2 separate regions of the Homo sapiens genome follow, and region 1 is linked to region 2. The links come from fine-mapping of genetic effects on gene expression. A gene starts in region 2. The other region holds a variant in brackets. All regions are shown on one strand. Distances are between the middles of the regions.

The links. PIP is the estimated chance that this variant, and not a neighbour inherited with it, causes the effect.
Region 1: its variant is fine-mapped to the expression of C1QBP in whole blood (INTERVAL, PIP 0.93).

The regions. Positions count from the first base shown.
Region 1 is chr17:5,503,679-5,516,345 of GRCh38, reverse strand. NLRP1 (NLR family pyrin domain containing 1) reads left to right here. Exons shown (of 17, transcript NM_033004.4): 16 at 829-873; 17 at 1,273-2,228. The coding sequence ends at 1,592. It overlaps LOC101928044 (zinc finger CCHC domain-containing protein 9-like), which reads left to right and starts at 3,620. Exons shown (of 1, transcript XM_047437231.1): 1 at 3,620-4,394. The coding sequence starts at 3,719. The coding sequence ends at 4,306. It also overlaps the pseudogene RNU7-31P. RefSeq lists a silencer at 1-168. The variant G/A (reference allele first, on the strand shown) is at 5,444.
Region 2 is chr17:5,434,112-5,446,778 of GRCh38, reverse strand. C1QBP (complement C1q binding protein) reads left to right here and starts at 7,624. Exons shown (of 6, transcript NM_001212.4): 1 at 7,624-7,937; 2 at 8,506-8,656; 3 at 11,813-11,906. The coding sequence starts at 7,706. It overlaps DHX33 (DEAH-box helicase 33), which reads left to right. Exons shown (of 12, transcript NM_020162.4): 12 at 2,266-5,862. The coding sequence ends at 2,574. RefSeq lists an enhancer at 7,228-7,407 and silencers at 7,467-7,649, 7,628-7,797, 7,908-7,957.

The DNA of each region.
Region 1 (12,667 bases), 70 kb before region 2:
TGCCATCCAGTCACCTCCCTCAGTAGATGCTCCAGTGTGGGAATGAGTCAGAATTGACCCCTGGACTGTCCAGTCAGCAGAGAGCATGTAAACACCCTCCTTTCTCCACCTACATGGACCCGGTGCTCCTGGTACCACAACCTGAACTCCCTCCCCTGTGCCCACCTCCCTGAACTGTGAGATCACACTGAACTTAGAGCCTGCTCAGACTCTCAGGCCTTGTACATGCGAGCTGCTGTGAACTTCCCCTTTCTCTCCTTTGCAAAGCAATTTTTAAGTCCCTTCATTTTTGTCGTTGTCTGTTTTTTCTGTTAAAATTAATTTGTTATTCCCATGTCCTAAGATTGCTTGATCTTGATTCTAGATTCTGACATCCAAATCCAGAACGTACACCTTTGGTTGGTGCCAGTCTAGAAGGCTAAACAAGAACAAGGAAGTAGATTTCTGCTCAGACAAGGAGGTGCTAAATAGTTCAAGCTATCTAGCAAGGGGTTTGGTTAGTTCACCAGGGATACAATTCAGGCCAACACGGGATTAAAACCAAGTCTGGGATGTTATAGGAGAAATTGCTATCGCTCATTTGGATGTCTTCTATTACTGTATGATCACAGCTTCTGAGCCTCAGTTTCCCCATATGCATAAGGAAGGGATTCACCTAAATAACCTCTAAGGACCCTTCCAGCTCTTACTCCAGATTCTACCAGAATTTGTCTGTGGCTTTTTTCTAAATCAAAGAATCTCAGAAGTGAGTGGGAGCTTGGAGGTGTACCATGTGTGTTAATAACTTAGCACTGTTTCAGATGCATCTTCATCTCTGTTTTCCTCCAGGAGATCTCATGCCTGCAACTACTCTGATCCCTCCAGCCCGCATAGGTCAGTAACAGCTCTCAGAGACCACAGGAGGCGGTGGCAGTTCTGGGGTACTGTCTGGTTCTGGGGGAAGGGAAGAGAGAAAGGAAGGGACTCATCACTGCAAACCTCACAAAGAGTCAGGCCCTGGAGAGCGGTGCATGGTCGCTCCCCATACCCCCTTGTCCTATCCACAGAGACCCTAGAATTCCTTATCTGACAGCCTCCAATGTGCCCAGCAGGAACCCCACTCCCGATCCCCACTCTGGCAGAATGCCAAGCTAGATGCTGCCATGAGGGAGGACACAGGTGCATTTCTGGAGGCAGAAGGAAGCGAGGGATGCAGAGATGAGAGAGGAAAGCACTGAAGGTGGGGATTGGAGGTGGAGGCTGTGGTTGGAGCCCTTCTTTGTTCGTTGCCAGCCGTACCTTCACCTCTGGATGCCCCGCAGTTGCTGCACTTTGTGGACCAGTATCGAGAGCAGCTGATAGCCCGAGTGACATCGGTGGAGGTTGTCTTGGACAAACTGCATGGACAGGTGCTGAGCCAGGAGCAGTACGAGAGGGTGCTGGCTGAGAACACGAGGCCCAGCCAGATGCGGAAGCTGTTCAGCTTGAGCCAGTCCTGGGACCGGAAGTGCAAAGATGGACTCTACCAAGCCCTGAAGGAGACCCATCCTCACCTCATTATGGAACTCTGGGAGAAGGGCAGCAAAAAGGGACTCCTGCCACTCAGCAGCTGAAGTATCAACACCAGCCCTTGACCCTTGAGTCCTGGCTTTGGCTGACCCTTCTTTGGGTCTCAGTTTCTTTCTCTGCAAACAAGTTGCCATCTGGTTTGCCTTCCAGCACTAAAGTAATGGAACTTTGATGATGCCTTTGCTGGGCATTATGTGTCCATGCCAGGGATGCCACAGGGGGCCCCAGTCCAGGTGGCCTAACAGCATCTCAGGGAATGTCCATCTGGAGCTGGCAAGACCCCTGCAGACCTCATAGAGCCTCATCTGGTGGCCACAGCAGCCAAGCCTAGAGCCCTCCGGATCCCATCCAGGCGCAAAGAGGAATAGGAGGGACATGGAACCATTTGCCTCTGGCTGTGTCACAGGGTGAGCCCCAAAATTGGGGTTCAGCGTGGGAGGCCACGTGGATTCTTGGCTTTGTACAGGAAGATCTACAAGAGCAAGCCAACAGAGTAAAGTGGAAGGAAGTTTATTCAGAAAATAAAGGAGTATCACAGCTCTTTTAGAATTTGTCTAGCAGGCTTTCCAGTTTTTACCAGAAAACCCCTATAAATTAAAAATTTTTTACTTAAATTTAAGAATTAAAAAAATACAAAAAAGAAAAAATGAAAATAAAGGAATAAGAAGTTACCTACTCCATAGGCACAGCAGTCCCGACTGGCTGCTGGTTGGCTATTTTTGTGGTTATTTCTTGATCGTGTGCTAAACAAGGAGTGGATTATTCATGAGTTTTCCAGAGAAAGGGGTGGGAATTCCTGGAACTGAAGGTTCTTCCCCCTTTCAGACTACTTAGGGAAACTTCCAGATGCTGCCATGGCGTTCGTAAACTGTCATGGCGCTGGTGGGAATGTCTTTTAGTATGCTAATGTATTAAAATTAGCATATAATGAGCAGCGAGGACAACCGGAGGTCCCTTTCATCACCATCTTGGTTTGATGGGTTTTGGCTTCTTTACCACATCCTGTTTTATACGAGGAGTCTTTGTGAAACCAGTCCTGCCAACCTCCTATCTTATCCCCACCTCAGACATTACATACTCGTCCTTAATCTTAAGAGGTTGTAGAAGGACAGAGATCTATCTTCTGTCACTGCTTCATGCTGAACAGGGGCCATCATCCCTACCTGCTCTGGAGGCATAGAAATGTCTTCGTACCTGATCGAATGACTTATAGGGACTCCATCTTTTCTGCAGTGGCACAGGCTGGAACACTGGACTAATTATTTTTCTCTGAAACTGTTGTAGCCTGGAAGACATAAACTTGAACCGTCCGAACACCTGATGAATATAACAAATATTTTTAAAATCAAATAGCACCTAGTGATAATTCATAAAATACTTAAGCCCAGTTTTAAAGAAGAGATCAAAGCCAAGCATGGTGGCTCATGCATGTAATCTTAACACTTTGGGAGGCCAAGGCAGGAGGATCACTTGAGCTCAGGCTTTTGAGACTAGCCCGGGCAACATAGACTTTGTCTCTTTAAAAAAATAAGAAAGAAAAAAATAAGAGATCAGATGCCATTTGGAATCTAAGTGAATAGGCTGGAAAACTAGTCTTCTGTTGTCTGAAATACAAAGCCAAACAGATTTTTAATAAGAGAGATTTTTATGAGAACAGAAGAAAAAAAGGTTAATGCTGGACACAGTCTATCCAGGTATTAGACTCAAAAGCATCTTTAGTTATAAAGCAGGAAAGTGGTGGCAATCTGACACGCCTGTATCACAAGGTATAAGCTTTAGCTTGCAGGGCCTCAGGAGAAAGCTAGTAGTAATTTTACTGTATGCAGATCTCTAAGCTGGGGGTGACACAGGAGGTGGGCAGGACTGGCTTCACAAGATGCAGGTCACAAAGACTCCACTGATAAGATGCGGTAAAGAAGCTGGCCAAAGCCCACCAAAGCCAAGATGGCAATGAAAGGGACTCCTGGTTGTCCTCACTGCTCATTATATGCTAATTTTCACCCTCCTGTAGGACCAGCTCCAGCAGTTGTGGGACCCAGTGCAAAATGGAAACACAGGGCCCCTCGTTCAAAAATGATAAGAATGTCAAGACGGTGACAACAGAACATGAAATCAAGCGCCAGGCCCTGCTGAGCTCAGGGCTCTGTGTGACCGCACAGGTCACACACCCATGAGACTGGCCTTGTCTTTCGGGTCCTTCACGCCCCACCCACCCATCTCCTTTACCACATGCAGACCTCCACTCTCCACACAACCCTTCCTCCAAGAGGACAGTCAATGGGAAGTAAGAAGATTTAAAAGACAAGGGGCAAAGAAAAATGCAATGGTGTGTTTCCATTGTAGAAAACCTGGTCGTGGAATTGCGGATTGCCCTGCCGCCCTTGAAAATCAAGATATGGGCACTAGAAGATGTTACAAGTGTGGGTCCACAGATCACGAAATAACCAAGTGTAAGGCTAAAGTAGACCCGCCTCTTGGCGAATGTCCTTTTGCAGAATGTTTTGTCTGTGGAGAAATGGGGCACCTGTCTAGATCTTGTCCTGATAATCCCAAAGGACTCTATGCTGATGGTAGTGGTTGCCAACTTCATGGCTCTGTGGAACATTTAAAGAAAGATTGCCCTGAAAGTGAGAATTCAGATCGAATGGCCACAGTTGGTCTGTGGGCAAAGGGAATAAGTGCAGACTATGAAGACATTGTGGATGCACCAAAACCACAAAAACCCAAAACAAAAATACCTAAAGGTGTTAATTTTTGATAACAACTAGTACTGTCATTAGTTACCACCTCATTGTTACTTTCTAAACCAGGCCCACTTCACAAGTTACAGCTGGGCTCCCTTGTAGCCAGGACTATACTGTAAATATCAGTATGATCTGGGTGTGGTCAAAAACAATTTTCAACAGAGAGAAAGAAGAAAGAAGAGAGAGAAAGAAAAAGGAAGAGAAAGAGGAAGAGGAAGGAATGAAGAAAAAGAGGAAGGAAGGAAGGAAAGAGAGAAAGGAAAGAGAAAGAAAGAAGAAAGAGAAAGAGAAAGAAAAAGAAAAGAGAAAGGGAGGGAGGGAAAGAAGGAAGGACCTACGCGAGGAGGGGCTCCGCCAACCCTCTAAGCCCCGCAACCCCCGCATGCCCCGCCTCCTTCTGCAGACCTCCCCGTCCCTCATCCCAGCAAGTCCTCACGTTAGTTGCCGGAAGCCTAGGAAATGTATTCCTAAATCTGGAGTCGTCTCCATGGCAGCGAGCCCCGAAGTGGAGCCAGTCTTGGAGTAGGAGAAAGGCCAGACACAAACAAGTGTGTGGGGATGGGGGAGACACACATGCATGTCCGCTTTGGATCCAGATTCTCTTTTTTTTTTTTAGACGGAGGCTCGCTCTGTCGCCCAGGCTGGAGTGCAGTGGCGCAATCTCAGCTCACTGCACTCACTGCAACCTCCACCTCCCGGGTTCAAACGATTCTCCTGCCTCAGCCTCCCGAGTAGCTGGGATTACAGGCGCCCACCACCACACCCGGATAAATTTTTGTATTTTTAGTAGAGACGGGGTTTCACCATGTTGGCCAGGCTGGTCTCGAACTCCTGGCATCAAGTGATCCGCCCGCCTCGGCCTCCTAAAGTGCTGGGATTACAAGTGTGAGCCACCGTGCCCGGCCTGGATCTGGATTCTAATAGCAACAGCTAGAATTCTGAGGGACAGGCAGTGAGCTGGGAATCAAATTCTTGGCTCTACCACCCATTAGATGTGTGATCTTGAAACAGGTTTTCAGATGTGTAAGAAGGGAATAGCAAAGCTTGCGTCAAACGGTTGTTTGACTAGGTGAGCTCATGAGTGGGAAGTTGTTCTGGGCGAGCTGGTACACAACACTAGGCAGACAGTAAATCTTAGCTTCTTTGAGCCT[G/A]AGGCTGTTGTAGGTGCCAGTGATAACAGAGGCCAGAGTATCTATTCTCAAGCAATTTATATTCTAGTGGCAAGGAGATACGAAATACGCACCCATGTCTGTAATCCCAGCACTTTGAGAGGCGAAGGCCTGAAGATCTATTGAGACCAGGAGTTTGAGACCAGGAGTTCAAGACCAGCCTGGGCAACATAGCAAGACCCCGTCTCTTAAAAAAAAAAATTTTTTTTCATTTTTTTGGCCAGATGCAGTGGCTCATGCCTGTAATCCTAGCACTTTGGGATGTCAAGGCGGACGGATCACCTGAGGTTAAGAGTTTAAGAGTTCAAGACCAGCCTGGCCAACATGGTGAAACTCTGTCTCTACAAAAATACAAAAATTAGCTGGGCATGATGGCAGGTGCCTGTAACCCCAGCTACTCGGGAGGCTGAGGCAGCAGAATTGCTTGTACGTGGGAGGCACAGGTTGCAGTGAGCCGAGATCACGCCATTGCCCTCCAGCCTGGGCAACAGAGCGAGCCTCTATCTCAAAAAAAAAAACCAGTTTTTTTAATTAGCCGGGCATCGTGGTACATGCCTGTATTCCCAGATACTCTGGAGGCTGAGGCAGAAGGGTCCCTTGAGCCTAGGCTCCAGTGAGCCATAATCATGCCACTGCACTCCAGCCCTGGAGACAGAGCAAGATCCTGTCTCTAAATAAAAATAATTGGCTGGGTGCTTACCTATAATCCTAGCACTTTGGGAGGCTGAGGCCAATGAATTGCTTGAGTCCAGGAGTTTGAGACCAGCCTGGGCAGCATAGTGAGACACTGTCTCTATTTAAAAAAAAAAAAGAAGAAGAAGAATAGAAGAAAGATCTTTTTGAATAGAGATAGATGGCAACTTCCTCAGAATGGATGTGACGGTTGAACAGCACATGGAGATGATGGGAATGAGAAGTGCAGGGCAGCAGGGATCATTCTCAACAATGGTGGAAAATTGGAGTCTTCCAGGATCACTGTGTTCAGACTAATCCACCCTACATGAAGTTTTCTTTCTCTTTAAAGTGGGCCACTTGGAACAGGGACCCCTGTCAAAGAATGCATTCAAGAATCATGGATTTGGCTGGGCGAGGTGACTCACGCCTGTAATCTCAACACTTTGGGAGGCTGAGACGGATGAATCACCTCAAGTCAGGAGTTTGAGACCGGCCTGGCCAACATAGCAAAACCCCATCTCTACTAAAAATACAAACAAAATGAGCTGGGCGTGCTGGCTCATGCAGTGAGCCGAGATCACGCCATTGTACTCCAGTGTAGGCAACAAGAGTGAGACTCCATCTCAGAAAAACGGAAGAATCATGGAATGCTTCCACCAGGCACTCTGATGGATGGTGGGAGCCCTGGGCTGAGCTTAATGCCTTTCCTGAAGGAGTCACTCTCCCAAGGAGTAGGATTTGCCAGGTGCTAGAATCCGATAGAGGCCATGAGCAATACTTGTCTCAATGGTGGGATAACTACAGATTTAAACTTTGAGCCATGCACACACTCTGGTCCAGGCCCCAGTCCTGGAGCAAGAAGGAAGCAGGGGAAGGAAGAAGGTCCTCTGGAACCTGTGATTACCTGTGTTGTGTCAGGTTGTATGATTGTGGGGACCCCATTGAGTGCTACTCACAGGTTAGCCCCAGGCAGGTAGGAATGAGAAGGAGGAGAATAGGAGAAGAAGAGGAAAGGCTAGACAGGAGCATGACTGTTGGAGAGAACTTGAAGGGAAGTCTAGCAGTAGTATGGACGCTGTGCTATTGGTCAGGAGTCCTGCTGTGTTCTTGGTTTCCTAGCAACTGCTGTTAAGCAGGTAGTTGCTAGGCAATGCGGGGCCATCTAGGCGGTTAGGTAAGGACCTTTGTCTGCGTGGGCATGAATCAGACCATCACAGAGTATTGTTAATCCTGAAAATGGCCACTGGGTCCATTACTTAGATTTTTTTGGCCTTGTTGCACAGAAACTAATATAACCATGGTGCACAAGTTCTGGTCAAATGAGAAAGAAGTCACCCCATGATCTCATTATCCAAACAATACAAAAATTCTGTCTTTCCTCTTTCCATTCCAGTCTTTCTCTGCAGGAACACATTTTCATCTTGTTATCATCCTAGTACATGGGGTTTTAAACCTTGTTTTTTTGACTTTGATTTAGATCATCACAAGCATCCCTCAAGCTACTTAAGAGTTTTCAGGATAATCTTCCCCTGCATGACTCCTTGCAGTAGATATATCATTTACTTAACTATTCTCCTCTTGTTCTGACATTGAGTTTGCTTCCAATTTTTTGCCACAATAAGCAGTACTGCAATACACGTCTTTCTGCAGAGAGCTTTTCGTTATCCTTTAGATCACTGTCTTGAAGTCAATACTAAGGGATAGTATCAAAGGGCATAAATAGTCTCATGACTTTCTATATTTTGCAATAGCTTCCCTCATGCTGGGTGCAGTGGCTCAAGCCTGTAATTCTCACACTTTAAGAAGCCAAGAAGGAGGATCACTTGAGGCCAGGAGTTCAAGGCCAGCCTAGGCAACATAGCAAGACTCTGTCTCTACAAAACAAATTTATTTTAATTTTTATTTTTCTTTTGAGACAGAGTCTCGTTCGGTCACCCAGGCTGGAGTGCAGTGGCGCAATCTCAGCTCACTGCAACCTCGGCCTCCTAGGTTCAAGTGATTCTCCTGCCTCAGCCATCTCAGTAGCTGGGATTACAGGTGCACACCACCATACCCAGCTAATTTTTTTTTTTTTCTGAGACCGAGTCTCGCTCTGTCCCCCAGGCTGGAGTGCAATGACACGATGTCAGCTCACCGCAACCTCCGCCTCCATGGTTCAAGCAATTCTCCTGCCTCAGCCTCCTGAGTAGCTAGGATTACAGGCGTGCGCCACCACGCCTGGCTAATTTTTGTATTTTTAGTAGAGATGGGGTTTCACCATGTTGGCCAGGCTGGTCTCGAACTCCTGACCTTGTGATCCGCCCACCTAAGCCTCCCGAAGTGCTGGGATTACAGGTGTGAGCCACTGCGCCTGGCCGCTGGCTAATTTTTTTCTTTTTTGAGACGGAGTCTCGCTTTGTTGCCCAGGTTGGGGTGCAGTGGCGCAATCTCGGCTCACTACAACCCCCGCCTCCCGAGTTCAAGCGATTCTCCTGCCTCAGCCTCCTGAGTTTCCAGTAACTGGGACTACAGGCACGTGCCACCATGCCTGGATAATTTTTTGTATCTTTAATAGAGACGGGGTTTCACTGTGTTAGCCAGGATGGACTCGATCTCCTGACCTCGTGATCTACCCGCCTCGGCCTCCCAGTGGGATTACAGGCGTGAGCCACAACACCCAGCCAATTTTTGTAGTTTTAGTAGAGGCAGGGTTTCACCATGTTGCCCAGGCTCGTCTGGAACTCCTGGACTCAAGCAATCTGCCCACCTCGGCCTCCCAGAGTGTTGGAGTTACAGGCTTGAGCCACCATGCCCGGCTGAATTTCTTGATTCTTTAATGGCTGGTTTTTGTTTTCTTTTGATTTTAGAAGGCCTTAATTTGAAGACCTTTAATTTAATTTAATTTAATTAATTTAATTTATTTGAAGACAGTTTGAGGGAGAACAAAATGTCCTCACAGTTATTTTTTCATTATTTTAGTTGAATATATCTATAATATAGTTTATGATTACAACCATTTTTAAGTGTAAGCACATTCACCTCGACGTGCAACGATCACCACTGTCCATCTCCAGAATTTTTTCATCTTCCTTAATTGAAATTATGTACCCATTAAATAATAATTCCCCATTCCTGCCTCCTTTCAGCCCCTGGGAACCACTATTCTACTTTCTGTCTCTTTAAATTTGACCACTCTAGAAACCTTATATAAGTGGAATCATACAATCATTGTCCTTTTGTGCTTGCTTCTTTCACTTATCACAAAGTGTTCAAGGTTTATCCATGGTATTGCATGTGTCAGAATTTTTTTTTTTTTTTTTTTTTTTTTGAGATGGAGTTTTGCTCTTGTTGCCCAGGCTGGAGTGCAGTGGTGCAGTCTCAGCTTACTGCAACCTCCACCACCCGGGCTCAAGCCATTCTCCTGCCTCAGCCTCCCAAGTAGCTGGGATTACAGGTGTCGACCATCATGCCCAGCTAATTTTTTTTTTTTTTTGTATTTTTAGTAGAGCTGGGGTTTCACCATGTTGGCCAGGCTGGTCTCAAACTCCTGACCTCAGGTGATCCTCCCGCCTCGGCTTCCCAAAGTGCTGGGATTACAGGCGGGAGCCACCTCACCCAGCCAGAATTTCCTTCCTTTTAATGTTGGAAAACATCCCATTGTATGTCTATGCCACATTTTGGTTATCTGTTCATCTGTTGATGGACACGTGTGTTGCTTCCACCTTTCGGCTATTGTGAGTAATGCTGCCATGAACATAGGTGTACAGATATCTCTTTGAAACCTTGTTTTCAACTCTTTTGGGTATATACCCAGCAGGGGAATTGCTGGATTATCCTCACAGTTCTTAACCATTTAGTGTGGGTCAGCTTCTGGGTGGATAGAGTAATGGAAGGAGAAGAATGATGTTGCTGAATTGGCTGTTTGATGATTTTTTTTTTTTTTTTTGAGACAGACTTTTGTTCTTGTTGCCCAGACTGGAGTGCAATGGTGCCATCTCGGCTCACTGCAACCTCCACCTCTTAAGTTCCAGCGATTCTCCTGCCTCAGCCTCTCGGGTAGCCGTGATTACAGGCGCCCACCCCCATGCCCAGCTAATTTTGTATTTTGAATAGAGACGGGGTTTCACCATGTTGGTCAGGCTGGTCTCGAACTCCTGACCTCAGGCGATCCACCCTCATCCGCCTCCCAAAGTGCTGGGATTACAGACATGAGCCACCACACCTGGCCCTGTTTGATGATTTTTGTTCTATAGGAGCGGCACAAAGAGAAGAGGACAGAACAAAAGTAACCAAATCTATTCTCTCTGAGGAAGATCATATGTAGAGAGCAGAGGTCTGTGTGTGTGAAAGAAAACGGGGAAGAGGATGAAAATGTCCAGAGTGGTGAGCTCTGCTAGGCCCTGGAATGAAGCTGAGATGCTGGAAGCGCTAAGTTCTCTCTAGTGGGAGAAAACCCACTGTGGAAAGCTAATCATTTGATGTAGAACCTCACCAACGACCAGGAAGAAGCAATCAGTGCCCAGCTAGGCTAAACTGGGCCTGCGATAGGGTGTGAGTAGGGCCAGCTTCCTGGAAGTGCAACCTGTGCAATGGCAGTAGGCCCCCATGCTTGGGGTTTAATGCGTGGCAGTCAGTGCCTTGAAACTCTTAATAATTGTATCTTTGAATTTGTGCTTTGTAAGTGAAGTTTGATGGGACCTGGAGCATGCATAGGGGCAGGAAGGGAGGGTAGGGGGGCTTGGAGCCACAGCTCATGTGGAATCCCACCTGCCAGGTGCCACCTCACAGCGCCCAGACAGGTTCTTAGCTTCCCACTGTCTGCCCCGTGGAGCCCCAGGCTTTACTCAGCCTCCCCTTCTCTGCCTTGCTCAGCAACCATTGCTACCCCTAACCCCAGCAGGGGATTGAGTGGAGCACGGGGATGATCAGCATTGGATGTGAGCTCCCAGAAGCCTCTCAGGGTGGGGCAGGCAGCTGACCCTGCATTGGGCTAGAAGTGCCACAGCACCTTCAGCAGGTGACTAGGCTTATCCAGGCACATCCTAGTGTAGAGGTTGCAATACACTTGCAGGTTTCCCATCAACTGTGGGTTTGGGTAGAGGACCTGTGGAAAGGGGAGATTCCTGGCTTGACTTCCCTTCTCCCAGCCAGGGCACGCATATAAATTAGAAGTTGGCAGGAGAGGAATTCGGCAGCCATGGTTTCCAGGATAACAAATAGCTATAGCCCAGGCAGCAGAGATTCCCAGAAGGTCCTTCTCTCCCACCCACCCACTGACACATACACCCCACCACCACCACCACCACCAAAGCCTGTTTCCTCAGCTGGGCATGAACACTTCGAGCTAAAAGTGGCCTTTGTGAATTTTGCCTCTTGCTCTGTGTACACATTCTAAAGGGAACAAGTCTGTTTTGCTGCAGGGTGAGGCCCAGAATGCGGCCTGGGAAAGGCTAACAGGGCACAGTCTTTGATGGTGAGCAAGCCTGGGGTGGGTAGCTGAGGGGATTGGGAGGTATACCTCTTACCCTTGGGTCAGAGAGATGTGGGTTAGAACCCCAGCAGTCAGTGTTTTATTCTATTCTATTCTATTCTATTCTATTCTAATTTTTTTGAGACAGAGTCTCAGTCTATCACCCAGGCTGGTGTGCAGTGGTGTGATCTCAGCTCACTGCAACCTCCGCCTCCTGGGTTCAAGCGATTCTCGTGCCTCAGCCTCCCAAGTAGCTGGGATTACAGGCATGTGCCACTATGCCCGGCTAATTTTTGTATTCTTAGTAGAGAGGGGGTTTTGCCATGTTGGCCAGACTGGTCTCGAACTCCTGACCTCAGGTGATCCACCTACCTCAGCCTCCCAAAGTGCTGGGATTACAGATGTGAGCCACCACACCCGGCCCCCAGCAGTCAGTATTAGTGGCAGATTTTAGATTCCTTCACCTCTCAGCCTCAGTTTCCTCATTGGAACATTGGAGAAAATACTGGTGCCTAATTTAGGGGGTCATGAAAATTAAGTGAGACCATCTCTGCAGAAATGTTGAGCACAGTTCCCAGCACACAGTCGGTGGCCAGTGATTGGCTGCTGCTGCTGCTGCTGCTATCATCCATGTGTGTCCTAGGATTCCTCATAGAGGGGGTCACCAACATGATCAACTGGCCATTGTCCAGATCCAGGCTTTGGCCTGGCAGACTCAAATCTCTGATTCCTATTGACTCAGACAGTGTATCTTTCTTCCAGAGGCAAATACCCCTAAATGGATGAAGGAAACCTATCAAAGTATAGCACCGGAGAAAAGATCCCCCTAGAAGAGGCCTCTCTCACCTCTGAGAGGGGTATGTACTCTGGGCAGGTCCCAGAAGCAGGAGCTAAAGGTAGCCTTTGTCCATTCAGGGTTTTTTTTTGGTGGATTCTGGCTCCAGGCCCTGGACTCATGAGGTTTTTCCTGGAACGCTCTGGTGTCGAGCAGAGTGTGAAGTTGTAGCTTGGGATCTTCCAGTATCTGTCCTGTCAGGGATGTCTAGTGGTCCTGAAGTCCCTGGGCTGGGACGAAGTTAGCT
Region 2 (12,667 bases):
ACCCTGTAGTGGCCAGGGATACCTCTCATTATATGTCAGGCACTGGTAAGGTCCTGAGACTTTACAGACATGCCTACTCAGTAACTAAGTAATAATCTAGATGGTGACCTGACGTACATACACTCATGCCAGGAGGCCATCAAATTAAAATAATCACTATCATTCATGAAGTGTTTGTTCAGCACTGTTCTGAGTACTTTTTATGTGGCTGCCTTATTTAAACTCCTCATTTCTTTTTTTTTCTTTTTCAACTCAGACCTTAACCCAAAGGATAAAATCCTCATTTCAACCTATAAGATTGATTCTTTTGTTATTCCCATTTTACAAATGATGAAACTAAGCCTAATCAGGTTAAATAATTTGCCCCAAATCACTCAGCCAGTGAGTGGTAAAGCTGATAGTCTGGAAGGAGAGACCACCAGTTAGCCTCTGGGGCTTCTTGGAGGTGGTGACAACTGAGCTAGATCTTGACAGATAAGGAGATAAAAGAGTATCTTCCAGGCCAGGTGTGGTGGCTGGCTTATGCCTCTAGTCCCAGCACTTTGGGAGGCCCAAGCAGGTGGATTGCTTGAGGCCAAGAGTTCGAAATCAGCCTGACCAACATGGTGAAACCCCATCTCTGCTAAAAATACAAAACTAAGCTGAGCGTGGTGGTGCATGCCTATAACCCCAGCTACTCAGGAGGCTGAGGCACAAAAATCGCTTGAACCCAGGAGGCAGAGGTTGCCAGCGAGCTGGGATTGTGCCACTGCACTCCAGCCTGGGCAACAGAGTGAGACCCTGTCTCTTAAAAAAAAGTATCTTCTTCAGGCATAGATCAGCTGATTGTCAACAACAGAAACCCTAGAGCCATCATAAAGGACAAAATAAAGATTCTTCCAAGGATGGAAAGGTATCTCTGAGAACCGATAGGCAGGAAATAGAGTCACAGGAACCAGAAAAAGCCTGCAGGAGCCAGGCCCGCCACTTTCTCTGGACCTGCTGCTTCTCTTGCTTTGAGTGCCCTCTGCGTGCCTCCTTCCCTTTTCTCACCTTTACCTCCGCATGGAAGTGATTTCTCTGCATGGCCCCTCCACTCAAGAGCCCAGCAGAGATTGACAAGTTTTCCAGTTTCAAACCTAAAAGATGCCTGGAAGAGAAAAGCTGGCCAGCTTAGGTCCAGCGTGTGTGTACCACTGGTTTGTTCATCTGTGCCCAGGGGCGTAGGTTACATGCCCCACTCATCAAGAGCAGTAGAACAAGGACATTGACTGGTGACTGACATTTCCTCTGATGAGACAGGCAGCATTTCTACTAAGAGTAGCAAATGTGAAGGCACAGATAGGAATCATGAAACGGGGCGAGGAAAGAGAAGGCAGCCAGCTATGGGGGACCATGGAGTGTCTAAAGAAGAGTGGTGAGGCCGGGCGCGGTGGCTCACGCCTGTAATCCCAGCACTTTGGGAGGCCAAGGCGGGCAGATCACTTGAGGTCAGGAGTTCAAGACCAGCCTGACCAAAATGGTGAAACCCCGTTTCTACTAAAAATACAAAAATTAGCCAGGCGTGGTGGCAGGCGCCTGTAATCCCAGCTACTTGGGAGGCTAGGGCAGGAGAATAGCTTGAACCTGGGAGGTGGAGGTTGCAATGAGCTGAGATTGCGCCATTGCACTCCAGCCTGGGTGACAGAGGGAGACTCAGCCTCAAAAAAAAAAAAAGAAAGAAAGAAAAAGAGCGGTGAGAGGAAAGACAGGCGAGCAGCTCAGGGTGGCTCCTTCGTGGCTTCACCACGGGAAGTTTGCATTGTTTTGCAAGGAGCAGTAGAGACATTGTTGAAGGTATTTGAGTGGATGAAGAGTGATTCGAGTTGTGCTTTAGGTAGATTAGCTTGGCAGCAGCAGGTGGGTGAATCGGAGTGAGGAGATGGTGAGATGGTCAAAGCGAGAGGGAAGGGCCTTTCCTTTCCGGGCCGTCCTGATGGAATTTAGGTGAGGGGTGGGTCACCCAACCTGCCTGTGGTCTGGTGGCTAATGTGAGCACCTCCCTCCCAGCCCTACCTTCACAGGCGGTAGTTTCCCTGTTTCTGGTCCGTGCTCCTCCAGCTGGGCCTTCTTCCCCTGACCTTGCTGATCCTTGGTGACCACCTCCGAATGTCAGAATCCACATCGTTAGGCTCACAATGTGGGCTGCTTTTGCCCCAGTGGGTCCAGTTGCCCCAACACGCTGTGTAGTGCTGACCAGTGTTTACGTGTGGGGTCGGCTCCATTCCTCGCTTTCTCCCGAAACAGATGTCAATGCCAATCGCATCATCCCGAGGAGACGTGGAGAGTGTCCGCCGCTGCCTGGCTCACAGCCTCTTCATGAGCACCGCCGAGCTTCAGCCAGATGGCACCTATGCCACCACGGACACCCACCAGCCAGTGGCCATCCACCCGTCGTCTGTCCTCTTCCACTGCAAGCCGGCCTGCGTCGTGTACACTGAGCTGCTCTACACCAACAAGTGCTACATGCGGGACCTCTGCGTCATAGATGCACAGTGGCTGTACGAGGCTGCCCCTGAGTACTTTAGGAGGAAGCTGAGAACCGCCAGAAACTGAGCCGCCCCAGGATGCCGCCAGAATCACTGGTCCCTGGGAGCTTGGACTACAGTTGTCCTTACAGCAGGCTTCCAGGTTGGCGCTTAGAGAAGCCTTGGAATCAGCTGAAGGTGCCTGACTTCCAGGAGCGTGAAAGCATCTTTGCTCAACTCCTGGGACTGAACCATATAGACATGGACATATCATTTGTACCTGGAAACCTCAAAATTATGCTTTTGGTTCTTACTGGGTGACTTTGACTTAATTTAACACCTGAGCCTCAGTTTTCTCATCTGCCAAATGGGAGTAATAATAATAATCCTTATAAAATTGGGTTCATAAAGTTTAGAGAAAAGGAATGGAAAGTACCCAGAACTATGCCTGGAGCACGCACGACACACGTACAGTGAGTTGGGAGCCGTTAGGCTGAATGTTACTGCTTGCCATATGATGTGAAGTACAGCAATATCCCAAGTTCTTGTGACTGAGGGAGATTTTCTGGAAGGGCCACAGGAGGTTGCGGAGCTTGGATGTTGCCCTTAGTTCTTGTTTAATGTCTCTCTGAATGCAGTTTTAAAATAGAAAACAAAACTGACTTCTGTAGAAGTTTCCAGAGGGAGGTGCTGTTATCTCGTACCTCCTGGGATGGCGATCCCTACTGAACGCTTGTGTCTCAGGGTGGACCACTCTGTGTCTGTCTCCAAGCAGAGACCAGTAAAGGAGCCTCCTGGTCCTCAGTGCGTGACCCTGTCAGTGCTTTCAGGAGACATGTAAGCTTCCTGGGTGAAGGTTGATTTGTACCTTCTGAATCCTGTCACGTGTAGACATGGGAAACTGACCTATCAGTGTTTTGTGTGTGTAGGTGACTCCCACATACACAGTTGCCATTTTTCTCTCTAACTGGGCACCAGTGAACATGCGGGCATGAGGAGTGACTGTGTACCATTTCAGCTGTTTCTTTTCGGGCAGTCCCCTGGTCAGAGGGGGTGGGGGTGGGGGAGGGGAGAGGGGTACCTAGAACCCAGAGAACATTGGCTTATGCCAGATACCACACCACATCTGGGCTTACATTCTTGTATCTTTTTTGGTGTGTGGGCGGGGGGGGTGGGGGGCAGTTCAGTGAAGTCTAGAAGACCTGCTGGACAAATTCTAAAAGAGCTAGAGCTGTAACACTTATTCTTGCATCTTATTAATTTTCTATGATATTTTTTCCTTCTTCGTAGGGACTTGGGACAATCTGGCTTTGCTGCTTTCTAACTGCTAGGCACCTCTCTCTAACCCTCATTGTCAGAGGGAATTGGAGGATATCCACAGTCTGTTCCTGTTCTGATATTCTGAGCAGAGAAAAGGCACTAACGGTTCCTCTTAGCTATTTAATTATCAGAAGCAAGTAATCTTTCCCCAGATAATATTTTGCCCTAGAAGAAGCCGTGATTTAGCTCTTTTATTGTGCTTACTTGGTCCAAATACATCTGTGGGGTGTTTTGTCATTTCTTAATGAATGAATCATAGTTATAACCAGGGGCCAAGCTGCCCAAGAGGCTCTTCAGAGATCATGGATGCTCTCTTTCTGGAAGCTGTGGCCTGATGGAGCAGCCCCATTCCAGGGTCCCATCTGTCCGGAGTTGTGTATGTCAAGTCCGGCTCAGTCTTTATTTCCAACACTAGCCGTGGTCCTGTGCAGTCAAGCTCTCAGCTAGTGTTTAGGGCTGTCTGTCAGAAATGGTTATACGTGGGCAAAAGAAGATCTGACAGCTCCTATATACCTTATCTTACTGAATTCTTAAACTTTGAACCAGTTCTTCCACTTACTGACTTGTTACCACTGCTGACTTTCTGAAAAGTTTTCCAGTTTTTGTTTTTTGTTTTTTGTTTTCCAGTAGGGGATTAGAATGTTTAGTCCTACTTAGTAAGAAAAATATTGTATTTTTAATCATTCATAGTGCTGGTAAAAAAAAAAAAAAAAAAAAAAAAATTGGGGGGTGGCCGGGCGCAGTGGCTCACACCTGTAATCCCAGCACTTTGGGAGGCCAAGGCGGGCGGATCACCTCATGCCTGTAATCCCAGCATTGGGATGGGAGGCTGAGGTGGGTGGATTGCTTGAGAAGTTCAAGACCAGCCTGGCCAACATGGCAAAACCCCGTCTCTACTAAAAATAGAAAACTTAGCTGGGCATGGTGGCACACGCCTGTAATCCCAGCTACCGGGGAGGCTGAGGCACAAGAATTGCTTGAACTTGGGAGGCAGAGTTTGTAGTGAGCCAAGATCACGCCACTGCATTCCAGCCTGGCCGACAGTGTGAGACGGTCTCAGAAAAAAAAAGAAAGAAAGAAAGAAAAAGAAAAAACTTGGGGTAATTTATGTCCAGCTTAAGTACCTGAACAGTTTCCGGAAATGTATATTTTTTTTCTGAGAGGCAAAGGATGTAAACAGCTTCTAAGTAGCTTTAATGTTTCTGTACAGAAATAAGTTTATCCCTGTAACATTGTGGTAGAGTTTTAATACAGTATTTAGTTTTTTATTGGGCTTTTTTAAAAAGTTAACTTTTAACATAGCTGCTCAGGGATTAAATCAGATTGGAAAACCCATTCTGACTCCACATACTGCTACAAAGAAATACATCGTTGTTTATATTGAGCTGCAGGAGATAGTACACTTTAAACTTAAGAAAGTTAAATGTTTCACAATAACATTGCAATATAATCTTCAGCTACTCTCTTTCCATTGGTAAAATCTCTGATGGTGTGATAACTCTTTGCCAACCTACGAAACCCATATCTGGAAGAATCACCAGCTCCCGTGAGCAGCTTCATGTAAATAGATGCACTCCAAGCAGATTGCATGCCTCAGGTGTTTGTCTTCTAGTAATCATGGAGTGTGCAACACCCAGAGTAACACTACAAGGGGCAGGACTGCAAACAGCAGGTCCTGGCTAAAAACCCTTAATGCTGCATTGCTGCCAGTTGTAAAGAGATGCCTGAATGGAGGCAAGTTCTGCCCTGTGGGTGAAACTGATGATGTACTGTACTGTCATATATAAATCCACTAAATCCAGCTACCAGGAACTGCCTGGAACTGTGGCCATGCATTTTTTTTTTTCTTTAAAGACCAGTGTGATAGTAGGCCATGCATCTGAGATACGATATTCCTTGGTAACTAGAGGGAGAAAAAAAAATCAAGTAGGTTCAGGCTTATGTTGTATTTTGAGAGTCTGGTTTTATTTGAACAGAAATAACTCTACAGAAAGCTCTTGTAAATAATGCTCAAATTTGCACCCGACGATCAAATCCATTAAAAATGAATCTTGTATATGATGTGTGTGGCTTGTTTCTTGCATCTCTTTTCCATTATTCATAGAAAATTATTTAGAAAATATTAAGTGTTAGTCTTACCATGAGTTAGTAAGACATACCTTCTTAGTAGCTTATATGTCCTGTATATCCTGGGAAGGTAGGATTGTTGATTTTTAATAAATCTGAACCCTGTCTTTGGGTTATATTAATTTACTGGAGAAACTCACAGAACTCAGGGAAACACATTTACCGGTTTCATACAAAAGATATGACCAAGGATACAGATAAGGAGATGAGCAGGGTGGGGAATGGGGAAGAAGCTCCCAGCCTCCATGCCGTCCCTGGACCACCACCCTCCAGGAACCTCCATGTATTTAGCTATCAGAGGCTCTCCAAACCCTGTCCTCGGGTTTTTATGGAAGCCTCTGGACTTATCTAAATGATATAAGCTGGCTTCTTGTCCCCAGAAAAATGATGTTCCATTAGAACTTGGATGCAAGGTTGGAGGTGCAGAGAGGGAAGGTCACAAAAATTAATCATGGATCCTGCCCTTGAGGATGTCACAGTCTGGTTGGGTTTAACCTGGTTAAAGCAGCAACGCTAGGAGGTTCCTGTTGAAAAGAGAATGAAGCATATGGGCTGGGTGCGCACAAGCATGAGTTCCGAGCCGGTGGAAAAAAAGGTTCTAGAAGGCCTCTTTCAGGAAAACCCTCAGACTTTCCTTTGCTCTCACAACACAACAATCAACACAGAAGACTTATGTGGCCAAAGGTTTGGGTTTTTCCCCTCCACACTAAGCAGCAGACACCAGCTGGGTGTCCTCCAATTCAATCCCAACAGTATCTACCTGGAGATAGTGTCAGATCCCATAGGTTGAGGGCTCAGTCCCCAAGACCGCCCCCACCTTCAGACAGCAATGGCAAGTCTGGGCCTCTGAAACTTCCGACCAACCCGCTTCAAGTTGGGGTTCCCACGACCCCCCTCTTTGGATTATGTTAACTCACTGGAGCAGTTCACAGAACTCAGGGAAACACATTCACCGGTTTCATATAAAGGATATGACCAAGGATACAGATGAGATGAGCAGGGTGGGGAATGGGGAAGAAGCTCCGAGGTTCCTTGCCTACCCTGGGCCACCACCCTCCAGGAACCTCTACGTATTCAGCTGTCAGAGGCTCTGCAAACCCTCTCCTCTTGGGTTTTTATGGAAGCTTCTGGACATCAGCATCCCTTCCCCCAGGGTATATGGTGGGACCTTCTCTGGGAAGGGACTTAAGACCCATAATCAGAAATGTGGAAGGAGATTAGAGTCCTGCTTTGGGGCAGGTAAAAGGAGGGCAGGAGAAGGGGAGAGTCTGTTTCCTGAGGCCTAACACACCCAACATTATCACAGAACATTGTAACAAGGGCTATAGGAGTTACGACCCAGGAACTGTGGATGAAAACCAATACATATATATATCATAACACCACAGCCTCCTAGAGGAAAGTGACCGTGGAAGGGTCTGGTGAGAGCTGGCGGGAGACAAGAGTGCATTCCACGCAGCCCAAAAGCCTTGCGTGCTTTGAGAACAGCAGGTGGAAAGTGGGTAAGCGGCCACTAGAGGGAATTAAACAGCTTCGGACAGCGGACTCGGCAGCGCAGCAAGAAAGCTCCGGAATCCGGATTCGAGGCTTCCCGGGCTGCACCGGAGTCTCCAGCAGAGGGCGCGATTCCGCCCGCTGGCCTTAGGTCGTCAGAGCGCCGGCGCGGGAAGCGCTTCCGGGCAGGGGCGGGGCTTCCGGCGGCGCCTCAGGTCGCGGGGCGCCTAGGCCTGGGTTGTCCTTTGCATCTGCACGTGTTCGCAGTCGTTTCCGCGATGCTGCCTCTGCTGCGCTGCGTGCCCCGTGTGCTGGGCTCCTCCGTCGCCGGCCTCCGCGCTGCCGCGCCCGCCTCGCCTTTCCGGCAGCTCCTGCAGCCGGCACCCCGGCTGTGCACCCGGCCCTTCGGGCTGCTCAGCGTGCGCGCAGGTTCCGAGCGGCGGCCGGGCCTCCTGCGGCCTCGCGGACCCTGCGCCTGTGGCTGTGGCTGCGGCTCGCTGCACACCGACGGTGAGGTTTAGCGGGCCGGGGGTGTGGTTTGCGTTCAACAGAGGGAAAACGTAGACCAGGAATAGGGCCTGCAACCGACCTCTGAGGTCTGGGACATTTTTCCATTGATTGGCAACCAGCGGGCTAAACCCACGTATGATCATATTTCCCCCACCTCCCCTATCCAGCAGTTTCGTTTTCTTTTGGTAGGGGGTGAATAAAATTAAATACTAGGGTACCTTTTTCCTTAGTCTTATTCTATCGAAAGTGGACCTTTGGGAAGGCCCATGGTCGTGGTTGAAAATAGCATAGTTATATCGTTTGGCAAGTGGAAGAGGATTGGAAATTCTCCTGGTTTATAGCGGAAAGTGGTAATGCGTTCATTGTTGGAAATCACTTTTCCAGAATCAGGCTCAGCTTCCTACTACTATTATGGTATTTTTACCGATAAGGAAACAGGCTTCTAGAGTAACCGTAATAGCAGAGAGATTAGAAACAGTCCAGGTTTCTGGCTGCAATAACCTGGGTAATAGTTTTATGTTTTAGACTAACTGGCTTTCCTTTTTATGTATCTGGATTTCTTTTCTAGGAGACAAAGCTTTTGTTGATTTCCTGAGTGATGAAATTAAGGAGGAAAGAAAAATTCAGAAGCATAAAACCCTCCCTAAGATGTCTGGAGGTTGGGAGCTGGAACTGAATGGGACAGAAGCGAAATTAGTGCGGAAAGTTGCCGGGGAAAAGTAAGTACTGGTCTGGGGATCCCAGGGCAGCAACTCCCTTAACCTTGCAGGACCCATCCTGGGTCATCCCCAGAAGAGCCTTGAGTTCAGGTGTGGATACTTTGATAAATGGGTTTCAAGAGAGTGAAGGATTCATTTGGACAACTTCGTAAGCCCCAGGCAGTCCATTCACCGAACACAAATTTGCTGTGGGCTGGTTACTAAGGAGACAAAAATGTAGTGCAAAAAAGTACTGGCAGAATCAGTTTGATCTCTGATTTACAGCCCTGATAAAATAGGACACTGCTCTCTAATGTTTAGTATGGGTGAAAATGAAAAATATGTAACTTCTATGTAACAGGATGGGGTTACACTGTAGTAAGGGCTGCCATCAGAGGTGGGGAGTTTGTGACCTAAGTCAGCTCCCCCATCATCTCCTAAACTGTTAAAGTGTTTACACTTTTCTGCATTATAGTCATCCATAATCTCATTACACAGATAAACATTTGGCATCTTCCAGGTTTTTAAATTGAGCCTGGGCGCGGTGGCTCACACCCATAATCCCAGCACTTTGGGACGGGCAGATCATGAGGTCAGGAGAAAATCCTGGCTAACACTAAAACCCTGGCTCTAGTAAAAATTAACCGGGTATGGTGGCACGTGCCTGTAGTCCCAGCTACTCGGGAGGCTGAGGCAGGGGAATCGCTTGAACCTGGGAGGTGGAGGTTGCAGTGAGTCGAGATCGCGCCACCGCGCTCCAGCCTGGGCAACAGAGCAAGACGCCATCTCAATAATAAATAAATAAATTGAATTTCCTTCATAATTGACCTTATGATGTGTATGTAATTTTTTTAAATCACAGCTTTTATGAGATTTAATTGAGATGGCATACGATTTACCCATTTATTGAAGTTTATTAAATTAAGTGGTTCTTAGTCCTCGCAGAATTATGCATCAGTTATCACTACCTAATTCTAGAACACTGTTGTCATCCCCAAACAATACCTATTAGCAGTCACTCATTATTCCTCCCTGTAGCCACCCCAGGTAATCACTAAGCTACTTTCTCTATGGGATTGCCTCTTTTGGACATTTCATATAAATGGAGTCATACAATTTGTAGCTTCCCCCCCCAACCCCACGGAGTCTTGCTCTGTCACCCAGGATGGAGTGCAGTGGTGCGATCTTGGCTCACTGCAACCTCTGCCTCCCAGGTTCTGACAATTCTCCTGCCTCAGCCTCCTTAGCTGGGATTACAGGCGTGCGTCCGGTTAATTTTTGTATTTTTAGTAGAGACAGGGTTTCACCGTGTTGGCCAGGCTGGTCTCAAAGTCCTGACCTCGTGATCCGCCCGCCTTGGCCTCCCAAAGTGCTGGGATTTCAGGTGTGAGCCACCCTGCCCACCCTATTTACCTTTTTAATTGTTGGGTTGTAAAAGTTAAGTTTTTCTGGGTACAACTATCTTATCAAATTAATGATTTGTAAGTACTGTTTCCCATCTTGTGGGTTTCCTTTTCACTTTCTTGGTAATGTCCTCTGACACAAAAGTTTTTAATTTTGAGGAAGTTCAGTTTACCTATTTTTTTGGTCGCTTGTGCTTTTTTATTTATTTTTTACTTTGCTTCTAATTCACCAAGTGCAACTTGTGCTTTTTTAGTGTCACGTCTAAGAAACCACTGCCTAACCCAAGGTTGTGAAGATGTATGCCTTAATTTTTTCAAAGTTTTCTAGTTTTAGCTCTTAGTTTAGGTCTGTGATTCATTTTGAATATGGTGTGAAGTAGGGTCCTGATTCTCTTGCCTGTTGCATAGTGTGTTTTTGCCCTACACAGGTCAATTGTGTCTTCTGTAATCTCACCTAAACACCATTTGCGCAAGGTTTTCATAGCTATTTGGGGGCCATTAAAAATAATGCTCTGATGAACGTCATTCAATTTCTGTGCCCAGGAGCTCAGCTTAGTCAGCACAGTTGGAATTAGACAGATTTTGTCAACCTCAGACTGCCTCTGTTGCCATGGAAAGGTGGCTTCCTGGCAGAGCAGCTAGTTAGCACAAGTGGAGGGCGGCACTTCATGTACTCTTTTTTTTTTTTTTTTTTTTCTGACAGAGTCTTGCTGTGTCTCCAGGCTGGAGAGCAGTGGCGTGATCTCGGCTCACTGCAACCTCCACCTCCCAGGTTCAAGCAATTCTCCTGCCTCAGCCTCCTGAGTAGCTGGGATTACAGGCGCGTACCACCACGCCCAGCTAATTTTTTTTTTTTTTTTTTTTTTGTATTTTTTAGTAGAGATGGAGTTTCATCGTGTTGGCCAGGATGGTCTCGATCTCTTGACCTCGTGATCTGCCCACCTCGGCCTCCCAAAGTGCTGGGATTACAGGCGTGAGCCACTGCGCCCAGCCTTCATGTACTCTTGTGTGGAATGGTGCCTGCCAGAGTTGCATAGCCCAGCAGTTTTGGTTCTAAACCTTATGTCCCAAGAATTTTGACTCAAACTTTGGAACATGATTTGTCAGGTGTGGATTCTTGCACCTTAAAATTGTCACTAGTTGGTGTGTCTGGCCTGCTTTGTGATTATGAAACTTCCCACAAGTACTCTAAGGGATGAGTCTCTACTACAGCCCTTGTTCTTTGTGAGGCATTCCCTTCCCCGTTCCAGGGCTGCTCTCGGTGTTTAGCAGAGGCACCCTCCATCGCTTCTTCCTTTCCTTGCAGGGCAAATTTTCTGACGGGGAAAGTCTCTTAAAGGGGCTTCTGTTCCATCTCACCAGCCTCTCAGGTCCTTACTTTGACCAAGGGTTCCCTGGAAAGACCAGGGTGGGCAGTGTCAGCTGGCTGTGGCCATGAGATGCCCAGTCAGCACATGGCAGTGAGCCCTGGGGTACTGGCCCTGTTGGGAGTAACCCATGCATGACTTGTTTGGCTGAGATAAACTGAGGCCAGCTTTGGCTTCCAGCAGCTGGTACATGGTAGGCACACTTCAGACCTGCTGAGTCACTCAGGATTGGATGTAGGCACCCAGCCTAGTTTGAAGTTCTGCATATAATTCAGCCAGCTAGGACAGAGACATTGTTTCAATACGCCTTTTTAACTGTAGCAGATTTCCATGTTTATGTGTTAACCTGCTCGGTTAAAACCATGCCTTGTCTGTTTTGCCTTGTCTGTTTTCCCTTGCCGTTTTAGAATCACGGTCACTTTCAACATTAACAACAGCATCCCACCAACATTTGATGGTGAGGAGGAACCCTCGCAAGGGCAGAAGGTTGAAGAACAGGAGGTAAGCTAATACTATAATCAGCTTTTACCTCAGTTCTGACAGGCTGTGCCTGGGGCTTAGAGGAGGAGCGTTTTTCTTTGGTCTTTCAAAAAAAAAAAATTCCTCTAAGTCCAGTCGCATGGCTCACGCCTATAATCCCAGCACTTTGGGAGGCCGAGACGGGCAGATCACGAGGTCAAGAGATCGAGACCATCCTGGCCAACATGGTGAAACCCCGTCTCTACTAAAAATACAAAAATTAGCTGGGCATGGTGGCAGGTCCCTGTAATCCCAGCTACTCGGGAGGCTGAGGCAGGAGAATCGCTTGAACCCGGGAGGCAGAGGTTGCGGTGAGCCAAGATCACACCACTGCACTCCAGCCTGGCGACAGAGCAAGACTCTGTCTCAAAAAAAAAAAAAAAAAAAAAAGAGAGAGAGAATGGCAGGGGCATAAGAGACTTTAACTGGATCATGCCTACTCTTCAAACATTTCAGGAAGTGCTGTGCCCAGCCTAGTAACCAGCCAGTATGAGGGCCACAGAGTCCCTAGACATTCTGCCCAAGAGCCATCAGTACAGTGTTGGGTCATGACCTGGTGTGGACGGCGCAGCTCTCTGGTGTGCTGCTTTCCCAGCCACCCCAACTAGCATCTCCCTGACGTTGGACCCAGTCTGCTCCCAGAGCTCCGCATCAGAGGAAAAGCTGCTGCTGTTATTCAGCCATAAGGATGGCCAGGTTCCCCAGCCTTTGACCCTGGTCCCTTATGAAGACTCCTGGAACAG